2 linked regions of the Homo sapiens genome follow. The protein of the gene in region 1 interacts with the protein of each later gene in a biochemical or structural test. Each region holds a gene or a part of one and is shown in the gene's direction. Other genes may lie near its edges.

The links. The genes of interacting proteins can lie anywhere in the genome.
Region 2: the proteins of NHLH1 (region 1) and NFIA form a complex in vitro, tested with the Homo sapiens proteins (one study listed by BioGRID).

Annotation. Positions count from the first base shown.
Region 1 is NC_000001.11:160,368,802-160,374,253, forward strand, and holds the end of NHLH1 (helix-loop-helix protein 1), read left to right. Parts: intron 1-1,755; 5' UTR 1,756-1,930; coding exon 1,931-2,332; 3' UTR 2,333-4,045; downstream 4,046-5,452. UniProt on the Homo sapiens protein: May serve as DNA-binding protein and may be involved in the control of cell-type determination, possibly within the developing nervous system.
Region 2 is NC_000001.11:61,399,473-61,407,560, forward strand, and holds part of NFIA (nuclear factor 1 A-type), read left to right. Parts: intron 1-4,631; coding exon 4,632-4,810; intron 4,811-7,089; coding exon 7,090-7,255; intron 7,256-8,088.

The DNA of each region.
Region 1 (5,452 bases):
AGGGGCCCTGAGAGGGAGGGGACCACAGGGCCAAGGCTTGTATTCTCCCCTCACAACTGGGAAGCATCTAGAGTCATAGCTAACTTCTCTTGGGGCTGTGGCTGCAGTCTTGCTCAGATTTTTTCCTCCTTTTATTTATTCATTTAGATAAAAAACAGCATACAATTTATAATCTTAACCATTTTTAAGTGTACAATTCAGTAGTGTTCAGTATATTCACATTGTTGTGAAACAGATCTCTAGCAATTTTTCATCCTGCAAATGTATAATTCTATACCCACTAAACAACAACTCCCCTTTACCCCCTCCCTCCAGCCCCTGGCAACGGCCATTCTACTTTCTGTTTCTATGAATTAGACTACTTTAAATACCTCATATAAGTGGAGCTATACAGTATTTGTGTTGTTACTGGTTTATTTCACTTATCATCATATCCTCAAGGTTCATTCATGCTGTAGCATGTGACAGAACTTCCTTTTTAGGGCTGAATAATATTCCACTGTATGTATATAATACATTTTGTTTATCTGTTGTCTATTGATGGACATTTGGGTTGCTTCTACCTCTTGGCTATTGTGAATAGTGCTGCTATGAACATGAGTGTGCAAATATCTCTTTGACACCCTACTTTATTTGTATATATACCCAGAGGTAGGATTCCTGGAGCATATGGTAGTTCTATTTTTTATTTTTTGAGGAACATTTATACTGTTTTCCATAGTGGTTGCATCATTTTGCAATCCCAACAAGGCATAAGGGTTCCAATTTCTCCACATCCTTGCCAAGACTTATTTTTTGTTTGTTTGGTTTTTGTTTTTATAGTAGCCATCCTAATGGGTATGAAGTGATATTTCATAGTGGGTTTGATTTGCATTTTAATGATTAGTGATGTTGAACATTTTTTCATATGCTTGTTGGCCATTTGTATAAAATCTTTGGAGAAATGTGTATTCTAGTCCTTTACCCATTTTTTTCTTAAAAAATGTTTATTTATATAAATTTATGGGGTACAAGTGCAATTTTGTTACATGCATAGATTGCATAATGGTCAAGTCAGGGCTCTTAGGATGTCCATCACCTGAATAACATACACGGTACCCATTCTGTAATTTCTCATTTCACGCCCCTCCCAATCCCTCCTTTGCCCATTTTTAAATTGGGTTATTTGATTTTTTGCTGTTGTTGAGTTGTAGGATTTATTTATATGTTCTGGATATTAACCCCTTATCAGATATATAATTTGCAAATATTTTCTCCCATTCCATAGATTGCCTTTTCACTCTGTTGATTATGTTCGTCAATAAATTAAAGTCTGATGTGGTCCCGTTTTTTCTATTTTTGCTTTTTGTTGCCTGTGCTTTTGGTGTCATTTCCAAGAAATCACTGCTGAGTCCAACATCATGAAGGTCTCTCCCTATGTTTTCTTCTAGGAGTTTTATGGTTTTAAGTCTTTAATCCTCTTGCTCAGTTTTAACCTGCCTGGTGTATCCTTCTCATCACTTCTGTTCCTTTCCTGTTACTCGTTTTCTCTTCCCTTCTTACTACCTTTCGTCCTCCTCTTCCTTTCACCCTGTCCACCTGCCTCTCTGTCTCTCGGCCTCTCCCCACCCCCCGACCCCCACCAGTTTCTGCTGTTCTTCCCTCACATTCACAGTTCCTTACCCCTCCCAGCCCATCTCAAACCTGCTTTCCCACCTCTGAGCTGAGCATTCCCTCCTCCCTCCGCTGCTATCACTTCTCTCTTCTCTTTTTCAGGCTTCAGACTGGCACCCTGACCATGGAACCCTGAAGTGGCAGTGACTTCTAGAGCTCAGTGGCAGACCCCACGACCCTTCCTCCCCCTTCCTCCCCCTCCCACCACCAGCTTTCAAGCTCCCAGAGGGAGGGGTGGGGAGGGGATCCTGATCTCACAGGGCAGGGGGCTTCCATCATGATGCTCAACTCAGACACCATGGAGCTGGACCTGCCGCCCACCCACTCAGAGACTGAGTCGGGCTTCAGTGACTGTGGGGGCGGGGCGGGCCCTGATGGTGCCGGGCCTGGGGGTCCGGGAGGGGGCCAGGCCCGAGGCCCAGAGCCGGGAGAGCCTGGCCGGAAAGACCTGCAGCATCTGAGCCGCGAGGAGCGCCGGCGCCGGCGCCGCGCCACAGCCAAGTACCGCACGGCCCACGCCACGCGAGAACGCATCCGCGTGGAAGCCTTCAACCTGGCCTTCGCCGAGCTGCGCAAGCTGCTGCCTACGCTGCCCCCCGACAAGAAGCTCTCCAAGATTGAGATTCTGCGCCTGGCCATCTGCTATATCTCCTACCTGAACCACGTGCTGGACGTCTGAACTCAGCCTGTCTCCCACCTCCCGGGCCTCTCTGGGGCCCCTTTCCACCGCTCACTGCTTAGAAAGGCCGCATCCTCCCCGAGCCCTTATACCTTGGCATGGAGTCCCAAAGGCCCTGGGCACAGGCAGAGAGCCCACCGGCTGGTCATGAGGGCCTCTTCCTTTCTCTGACCCAGGCACCTCGAGGGCTATTCTCCTGGGTTCCTTCCGGGGTTTATTGCTGAGGCCCAGCTGTGCAGAATTGTTTGCTAGTGTGGTTGGTATGGAATCCTTGCTGGCTTTACTAAGCCAGCCACACTTGGAGTCTGCCCCCAAGCTCTCTCACTGAATGCTGCCTCTTCTACCCCTATGTCCAAATTTTCAGCCACCACAGACCTCAGCTGTGTATCCTATCTGTTCTAGCTTCTCCTGCCCCTGGTGGGGATGGGCTGTCAGAATTGCAAGGGAGGAAGGCTGGGGTTAGAGTGGGGAGTGGGCTTCTTCCTCCAAGATCTCAGTCTCTCAGTGCTTGGCAGAGGGGTGAGGCCCTGGGGAGGCAGGGGTTGGTGCCCTGACTCCTGTGAGGGGAATCTCAGTAGCTGGGAATTATGGAAAAACTCTTCCTGTTTCTGTCCATCTTGTTCCTGTGGCTTAGCACATACAGACCTCAGATCTTACTTGGTAGTGAGTGCCTTGCCCTCTTTGAGCTATTTGGCTACTTCCCTGTCCCTCTGACTCCTACTGTCCCAATTTTCTCCCTCCCTGTGTGTCACTAGAGAAAAAAAAAAACAAAAACCTAGATTCCGGATTAGGGGATGACATCCCAAACAGCCCGGAGTATTTGCAGAAGGCTCAGGCAACGAGTGGGCCACATCTCACTTCTGCTTCCTCATCTCAGCCCACTCTGAAAATGTGCAGCACCCTCACTGGTTCCTCCCCCCAACGCAAGGAGGATGCCCAATTGTTGCCCTCTGAAAATGCACAGTTCTCCTGGCCCTAGGACTTACTTATTACATTTTTTTCTCTTTCCTTGAGCTGCCTTTGGCAAGGGAAGAGACCCCCAACTCTGCGCCCCTACTCCATGCTGCTGATCCCCACCTGCGCACTATAGCTCAGGGTCAGCAGTGGAATGAAGGGCCTTAGAACCTGCATAGAAGAAATGAACTCACTGCATTTCTGTGCTCCCTCCTCCCTCGCACCAAACTCCTAGCTCTACAAGTATATTTATTTATTTATTTATTTATTCATCTATTTATTTACTTATTTATTTATTTATAAATATTGCTATTTATTGCCGAGTTGTGCACTTTGGGGTAGAGTGAGGGGCTCCCAGCAGCTCTAGCTGGGTCTCTCTTGCTTCCTCCCTGCTTACGCCTTTCCTTTTCTTGCTCCTTCTTCAACTCCTGGTGTGTGTGAGCATGCCCTTTGCTTGCCACACCATATCCTTTCCCCAGATCCACCTGTCCTGACACTCTAGTCCTCCAGGATAGTGCTCCTCCCCCAGCTCCAGGGCTCCTGGATGTCCTTCCTCAACTCCCTCCACCCCTAGACAATCCTACCTGGTCCCATCTGCCTCTTTTCTCTCCCCAGCCTGCCCTGTGACCCTTGCCTCTTCCTGATACTCCCAAGAGCAGGCCCCAGGGGTCTGTGTCACATATCTCTGTGTGATTCCTTCTGGTTGCATCCCCAATTTCATACAAAAAGAAAAATAAAAGTGACCTCGTTCTAGCACCAGGTATGGTTGTGGCTCATTCAATTGGGTTAGGAAGCTGGCCTGCAGGTTATGGTAGGGTGGGCATTGAGGGTCCTAGGCTTCGTAGGCTCTTCTGATGGGGTCAGGAGAGCTCAGTTTGGGGAACAAATGAAGACAGAGAAAAGGGGCCACAGGGAAAAGAGGTGCAGGGGAGAGTATAACATACAGGTCCAAGATCTCCTCACCAAAATCTGGGTGCCAGATACTCCCTTCTTGGCACTAATTTAGTGACACTATCTGACTTCTCTGATGTTGTGCTTCCGCTCCTGCTCTCTATGGCCTGAGAAGGAGGTGAATATTTCGGTGGAACCCAAGTTAAACATGTGTCTGTGGGTCCATGCTGCTGGGAAAAGCTATGGTATGAAACTGAGACATTGCCTTCCCCTTTATTGTCTCTAGGCTGGGTCAAAATTCCCTGCAATCTCAGTTCTTGGCCTATTTTGTGTTCCCCAGCCTTAGGATACTGGGGAAAACAGATGGCAGGCCTGGGACTCAGAGAAGAATATGGACAGGGATAAAAAAAAAAAAAGAGTGCTGAAGGGACCCTCAAATGAATTTATAGATGGGGACACTAAAGCTCAGAGAAGGGTAGGGTCTTACCCAAGGCCACACAGCTAACTGGGGGCACAACTAAGGCCCAAATCCAGGTTCTTTCTACCATATGCTGCCAACTCCCCTCTGCCTCCCTAAAATGACCCAGGCTGACAGTTAGCCCTCTTTTGGACCCCATATTTTCATAGGTGCATTGATAAACTAGAGAGGATTTAGGGTTGTGTGGCGAAGAAACCAAAAGGTCTGGAGACCACTTTATAGAAGAAATAGTTGAAAAACTGAGGATATGTGTCTTGATAAGAGTAGACTTGGGGGTAATATGACACCCATCTTTAAATATTGAAAGAAGAATCAAAAATGGATATTCTGTGGGGCCCCAGTAGGCCGAACAAAACCCGTGAGTAGAAGTTAGAAGAAAGCAGATTTTAATTTGAAGAAAAATTTTGCAACACCTGGAGCTGTCCAGCAATGGCACTGACTGCCTCAAGAGGAGAACTCCAAATAGAGAAGCTGGAGAGTCAACCACACGCAGAGAAATCATAGAGCACATTGCTGCCTCAGATGGAACACTGGCTAGGTTCATTAGAAGATCCTCTCCAAACTTAAGGTCATACGAGAAGGCTGAAGGCAAACAGCAGGAGGGAAATGCAGAGACAACTTTCAGTCCCTGAAATATTTTCTTTTTTCTTTTTATCTTTTTGAGACAGAGTCTTGCTCTATTGCCCAGGCTGGAGTGCAGTGGCGGGATCTTGGCCCACTGCAACATCCACCTCCCCATTCAAGCCATTCTCGTGGTTCAGCCTCCTGAGTAGCTGGGACTACAGGCGCCCGCTGTC
Region 2 (8,088 bases), about 99 Mb from region 1:
TGTGTGAGAATCTGCAACGGTTCATGGACAAGGAATAAAACAATTAAGGCAATGTCAGGGTTATAATACAGAAGAACATATTTCAACCCATAAAATTTTGGTTTGAGGGAAAATGTGTGAGAGTTATTAGAGTTCTTGGAGGATGAGCTTGAGAAAAACTACTGGAAATACTAAGAGATTACTTTCTTCTTCTATCTCTTTTTCTTCCCTAAGACTTATAAAAGCAGAAAAATGCAAGATTCCAAGCTTGTCTGGACACAGCTCCCTGATACCATCCTATTTCATATGGCCCACGCTTAGATTTTCTAACTAGTTCTGACTCCTCTTAAGAGCACTCTTATGTGTCTACAAGACCTCCTCCCCATAGTGGACTCTCAGACCAAGAATCACTGGTTGTATTATAGAAGTCTTGCAACATATCCAATAATACAATAATGATCCTGACCTTCTCCTTTCTCAGTCTTAATAAATTCTGCTTTTAACGGAAGAAGCATTTTTGAGTTAAACATGTATATGTATTTTTTCAATTGTTTGAATTTTTAACTTTTTCTCCTTTAAACTAAAACCAAGAGAGGATTTTTAAGAACTGGTGGGCTGCTGGACTGGTGGGGAGGGAATGAACAAGTAAACCAACCTGACTGACCTGCTTTCGTTTTTCAAAGTATCCAGTAATATGATCATTTTGTAATAAATAGCTGAGTATTACACCCTTTGGGAAATTGTGGCTCTCTGTTTCTTTTCGTTGTGGCTACTTTGTTCAGGATGTGTAGGCAGTGCCATTGCAGCCAAAGAAACCTGATCAAATTTCCTTCCTTCCCATCTTATTTATATTCTTTGTGAAAAGCCCAAACAGTTGTTTTAAACAAGTCTGGCCACTCGTTAAAGTTTAAACTAGTAGTGAGATCCATCAGGAGTGAAGTGTTTCTGACACTCTCTGCTGCTCCTGGCCTAGGGTACTAAGAGTATTAGATGCCGGAAGCAGCCAATTTTGTAGTGTCTTTTAATACACAAAATTGTATTAACATCAATGTGGATACAGATGGATGCACTGCAATAAACTGTAACCACTTGAGAAAAGCCTTTATTGACTCTCAAGTAAATAATGCACATTTTAAAGGATCTAAATATGCATTTACATAATGTGCTATAATTTTTTATGGTGTCAACTACTCACACACACACATCCATAAGACATGTTTTTCTTCGTCAAAAATCTGGACTCATACCATTCTTCGTGCATTCCATTAGCATCATGCCAAATTCATAATGGTAGTTTTTTTCTATAAAGCCTGATCTGGCCACCTCAAAATATAGTTGATGAATTTTACTCTTTAATTGATTTAACCCCAGTGGCTCTTTCTAAAATGATTTGAGACAAATAAAAACTTAGGTACAGTAAAAACATCCAAGATGAAGAGAGAAAACAAGAAATAGGAGAGAAGAGAAACAAAGTTAGGCAGGCATTGATGACATCTTAATTCTGAGTTTCAGTGGGTTTCATTGTCTGGTAGAAGAGGAATAGCAGGTTATCTAGAGAAATAGCATCTATTTAATAATAACTAGAGCTTTGTGATGTCAGTAACGTAACTATTTTCTGTTTGAAGAAATGAAGGTTCAGGATCTCGAATGATTTCTCTCCAGTTGCACAGTGAACTGATGACTGAACCAGAAAGTCCAAAGCATGAGAAAGTAAGGGTTGCAAAGGATGACCCTTTAAAATGCAGACTCAGCAATTGCCCAATTTGAAACTACAGGCTAAATGATTTCCTGGTATTAATTAAGAATTAATTGATTCTTATAAATCAGTCATTGTAGAATTAATTCCATATAGTACCATATGTTCTTGTGTTTGTGTTAAACTCTGTTCCACAAGGAAATGGTGAATAAATTGTTTTTAGTAAAATAAAAAACGAAGGTCTAAATTTAAGTTGCTAATGATTGTCTTTTACGTATTTAACAACAACAAAATGAGGGAAAGGATGTTTATAACAGTTAATGAGGAGATGACAGGGTGCTTTTGAGTTATTTCTTCTATCTCATTTCTTTAAAGATCAGCTCTGCTTGATCTTTGCTCAAGTGAATTTCTTTTTTGGGCAGCATTTTCTGTAGGCCACCGTGATTTCATAATCTAACAATTACCCATCACTTTCCATTGAGCACCTGAGGCAGCGGCACTTTATCTTCAAGGTCAGCCTACCAGGGGCTCTTGTCAGCAGAATTGGCACCTTTGTGTTTGGCATTCTGCAAAAGTTGAGTGTTTCGTTTTGTTAGGCTCAGTATATTCTCAGCCTAGTTTGGGAAATATCACATTCTGTCCTTAACTAGTGACTATTCCATCAGACGCAGGGTACCGAGTACAAGTTTTTTGCCACCAGCAAGGAGGACTGTACCATGTTGGATGAAAAAATTCCTTTGATTCTTGAAAGCCAATGGCATAATTTGCAGAGTAAGAGATGACCAGAGCCATTTAACTTTTTAGCTTGTGGGTTTTAACAAGCAACAACAATAGATCCCAAGATTTATCATTCATTGCAGGAAGTCCTAAGTTTTACTCATTTTTCTTTTTTTTTTTTTTTTTTTTTTGAGACGGAGTCTCCCTCTGTCGCCCAGGCTAGAGTGCAGTGGCGCGATCTCGGCTCATTGCAAGATCCGCCTCCCAGGTTCATGCCATTCTCCTGCCTCAGCCTTTGGAGTAGCTGGAACTACAGGCACCCACCACCACACCTGGCTAATTTTTTTGTATTTTTAGTAGAGATGGGGTTTCACCGTGTTACCCAGGGTGGTCTCAATCCCCTAACCTCATGATCCGCCTGCCTCAGCCTCCCAAATTGCTGGGATTACAGGCATGAGCCACCGTACCAGGCCAGTTTTACCGATTTTTCTAAAAGCTCCCTGGCTCTTGACCAGGTGGAGAAACCAAGTTTTGGTTTTAGCAAATTTTATTCTATGTTTAACGGTATGATTATCTTATTAACCTCTGTTTATTCAGTCATTCACTGCACATTCAACAAATATTTATTGAGTGCCAGACTCAGTTCTGGGGATATTGCAGTGGGTTGAAAAGGTATTTACGAAGATGGAGAAGGCTGGGAGAAGTGTAAGCTTGAGAGGAGAAGGTAATGAAAATTCTGATTCAAATAGGTTATGTTTGAGACATCCTCAATTGTATGACCGATGGCAAAATTTCATCTGTTTTGGCTCAGATTTGTTTCTTGAGCCCATAGTAGGAGCCTATGAATATTTATTGGGCAGATTAAAGATTGCATAAATTAAAGGGTTGCACCAGACCACCTGCAAGACATGGATTGGAAAGTTGCTTCCCCTCCAATCGCCCATTTCCAGTCTTTTTGAAAACTACAGATGTCACTCTGAACCCCATAGCATGAGCCATTTCAGTCATTAGTCAGAAAGTGCCCCAATCATGAGGAGATCCCGGTAGGGAACAAAGAACCTATGCCCAGCAACTAATACAGATGCATTCTTTTTCACAGCCTTTAGCCATGCAAGTGGGATAGTGGTAGAAGTGATGGCCTGTCTTACTGAGTTTCTCTTCAGTATTATGAGTCATTCTTGGTATTGGAAAGGTCTTATTTTCCAAAATGTGGACATTCCTGTGATTTTCAGTTTAAAGATTTAAACCGAAGAAAGGAAAGATAAATACTTTCATCTCCTCTAATTTGGGAGAGGTTTCTCTGGCTCTCATTGAGAAGCAAGAGCTGCTGCTATCTTGGCTTGACTTGGTTTGAATATCTGCAACCTTCCCATGCACTGCTCTTATCCTCCAGCCAGTTTTATCAATCATCCTTCTAATTCAAGGGCAAAAGTTCTCTTAGAGAAGTTATTAGGCACCTCACATAAGTTTTTTTAATCTAATGTAATCTTCTTGTTCACATGAAATTTACCAGGGTTCAAATGTAAGGGAGCAGTAGTTGTCTGAGTCTTTTATCAGTTTTTATGGGCACAGGGCCAACATTTTAGCAGGGGTCACTGCCTGCTTACCCTGTGGGTTCCCCTGCTGTAACATATGTGCATTTCTGAGTTTGTCTTTGAAATGGCATCTGAAGGCGACATAAACCATCCGTGTAAAGTGAGGCACCCAAATTGCATGGGCTCATTAAGTGATCATTTACTACATACTTCAAAAAATTTTCATCCTGAATTAGTCCCTAGAAATTTCCTTGAAAGGGGTATAAGAGGTTTAACAATGAATTATTGTCTATGGATAGCTCAGCGTGAAAGGGGATCCATATGTGCAAACTAGAATTTGTCATATGTAATGTCAGTTAAGTCAGGTCTAATCTACCAAATACATTTTTTATTGCTTGCTTCATTAAAAAGGCTCTTAAGGTAATGAATAATCTTCAGCCTCACCAAGGATTATTAATGCCTTTATAACTCATGTCCACTGAAAATAGAAAGACAGCTTGAAACTCTACCCTAATCTAACCTCCGTGTTTGTCTTAGAGCCTTAAGGAAGAAAATCTGTCAGACCTATCCAGTGTTAAATTCAGTCACATGAGCAATATTGTGAATCGGGCCAGGAAGAGAAATAAAGGAGGAAGTTGAATCGGGTTCAGCTATGACAAAGCAGGTCTTTCTTTTCATAACCCTGATGTTTTCTTTTCCTGCAGCAAGTCCGCATGCAACACCATCGACTCTTCATTTCCCGACATCACCCATTATCCAGCAGCCTGGGCCTTACTTCTCACACCCAGCCATCCGCTATCACCCTCAGGAGACGCTGAAAGAATTTGTCCAACTTGTCTGCCCTGATGCTGGTCAGCAGGCTGGACAGGTGGGGTTCCTCAATGTAAGGAAACCTCTTTTTTTCCATTTCTTTAGAAATGTTAGCCGAATATAAAAATAACAAGGGGAGACCTTATGATCATGTGACGTTGTGCTCTAATGTTGTGCTGACTGACTGCAGGCAAATGTCATATTTATTCTAGATTGTGGGAAAGTTAACTTGGTCTAAGAGTGATTAGTCAGGGTTTAAAAACAGTGTTTGTGTTAAGTTTGCAACTGTCAAGTTTATGGATATAAATCAGCTCAAGGGTGAACTATATAACCTTCTAAGTTCTGTGGGCTGATCATTCCACCTCGTGCATTCTAACCCCAGGGCTCATACAGTTAACAAAATAGAAAGACCAAGTAGTTTTAAATAATGATTTGGGGTGGTAGAGAAAGGTAGGGAGATGAAGGGGACAGATGTTTCAGATCAACTAAGTTGATATTTTTGAAAAATACAGTCTTGTAACACTTTAGATCAAGTTGACCAGTACTTGAACTCAAGATGCTGAAAGTACAGTTTATTATGGTTTGTTATTTCTGCAAGTCATTATCTTTCCCACTTATCTTGGTATAAAGCTAAACAGTGTTCAATAGCTTCACATGAATGTTTTTATTTTTCCTCAAATAAACCAAATAATCACAATTTGAAATGGCATTCCAAATGTAAAAGTGATTTTTAAAAATCAGAAATTTTATTTCAAATATAGGATTAGATGTTTACAGTGGAAAGCTGTATCTCAAGGCCAATAATAATAAACAACGACCAGCATAAAGCCAAATTTGATTTTCCTTTTCTACTAATAACTGTGCATGAAGTCACAGACTAGCCATAATTATTACTGGCCAATTTAGGATAGTATGTCACACCATCCTGTCACCGATTTTTTTCACTTGCAGAAATACCTGATTCTGCATATCTGCGCCAGAACAGGCAGCTTTGACTAATGTCTGGTGATGTGTTAGCAGATACATTTCTGTCTAGACAACAAATCAATATGGTGCCTCTTTTCTTTTTGCTTGTACATTCATTTGCTTGGCTTATTCTAAAGCATTCACTTATGGACTCTCAGCCCACTCAGAAATAACGCAAAGGCAAGGTTGCTGGCAAGAAAGCACAGCATTCTGATCGTCAGACGAGGTAGTCTTTGAGGAGCAATACTAAATATATAAGTACTAAATATATAAGTAAATGTTGATGGGGGAGTGAGACTGCCTCTGTAGAATTATTAAGCTTAAATGTAAAAGCCTGGGACAGCAGAATCTCCTTCAACCGAATTTTGATTGGGGACTAAATGTGAACTGTTGTCGTTGGTTGAATAGAGGCCTCTTGGGAAACAATGAAAAAACTGAGCTGATCACCAGCATCAAGCATCTGACTTCTAAATTATTAACCATTTTTGTAATAGTCCTGACACCCTATATAACTGTCAAATGCCCAGTTTTGCATTTTGATCAGAATTTTATAGGACTTAAGGCAGGTCTCTTCATGAAACTATTTTGAAAAAATTGAAAATAAAATGGGTTTTATTGCTCTCTTTGGAGGGGAATTTTTTGTTAAAGAGCTGTTATTTGGTTGTTTTAACATCAGGCAGCAAAATAAATATGACTCTTATGGCATATGCTTATATAATTTAAATCAAAATTAGAAGTGATATTTTTCCCTAGCAGACTTCTGACAGCTGAATTCTAAAGTTTCTGTGCCTGATGTTATACAATATGTGAACAAAATTTTCTATGTTCACTTAACACATTTATTAAATGTTATATAATATCAACTTTGAAGAGTGAAAATAAAATATTACTTTTTTATCTCAAGTGCATATTTAGGAAAATTTATTCTATCTATGTAAAGAAACATAGTGGAATAATGCCACAGTCCATAAAACACTTAGATATTAAATATTTAATAATCATGAGAAAGATAATGAAGGTAGCAGTTAATACAGAAAAATACAAAAGATTCCAAGCAAAAGTTGGTTACTCAGGGGACAAATCCAAAGTGATAATTGGCAGGTGATTTTATGAAACCAGATGCAAAGAAGGACAATGTAGTTCAAGAGATAAGTTTAGGATGCATGGAGCACATGTGGCTAAGAGTACTTTTGTGAAATGCCTTAAGAACAGAACCCAACAATGGACATTTCCGTATGGGCTTATGGAAGAATTGAAGCAGCTAGATACTTAGTAATTTACATTAAAGGTGCCTGATGAATATTTTGTTTTCAGAAGCAGCTAATGGTTGCTGTCTCTTTCTTCTTTTTCTTGTACGTGTGTTTTCTGCCCCCCCCCCCCCCACAGCCCAATGGGAGCAGCCAAGGCAAGGTGCACAACCCATTCCTTCCCACCCCAATGTTGCCACCGCCACCGCCACCACCGATGGCCAGGCCTGTGCCTCTGCCGGTGCCAGACACAAAGCCTCCAACCACGTCAACAGAAGGAGGTGCAGCCTCCCCCACGTCACCAAGTAAGTATGGCTGCGACAAGGCGCCGGTCACTTCTAAAGCTGTATGCACTGGAATCCACACTTAGGCTTTGTCCCTCACTGTATAGGCTCTAGAAAGAGGCACAGATCCCCAGTGATGTTGTAGCATGAGTTTGCCAGACCGAGAATCAAAGTGAACATGACTCTTGGGTACTCCACCAGATGAGGAAAACACTGGGTGTTGGGTGGATGAGATGGTGTAGCTACATACCTAGGACTGAAGTCAAGTTATGAGCTATTACATTTTGTATATTATTTGAGGGATTTCAAATGCTATTCCCATCATCAAGCAGCAGCTACTTACATGGATTCTGCTTAGAAAAAGTTCCTCATTCTTACAGACAGCCCTGCCTTCCAGGAACTTGCAGTCTAAGAGAAATGCACTTGAAAGTTATATACCTCATACATCAAATAGGAGAAAATGTCTAGATCAAAGCACCAACTCAAAGGTGTGTACACTGACCATTCGCTGAGAGTAAGAGCCTGGCAGAAGATCAATGCTAGTAGCCCTGGCAGTCGCATGGTGAGGTTTGGCAGAGGTTGGGGTAGGGGCTGGGGTACGGAGATAGAGGGGAGAGTAGGATGGAAGGAGGAGAGAAGTCTTGGCTCTTCTCTGAACAGTCTGAGAACATTTAATCAAAGAATATAAGATTTCACAACCCTTTTAGATGATGGGAATGATTACTTGAACTAGAGAGAGAGTAATTCTCCAGATATTCCCTGATGTTTTAGATATGGCAAGGGGATAGAAATAGTTTGAATGCACAAATGTGCCTTTTATTAGTGCCTGGAATAATGACAAAAAGAGTGATGGC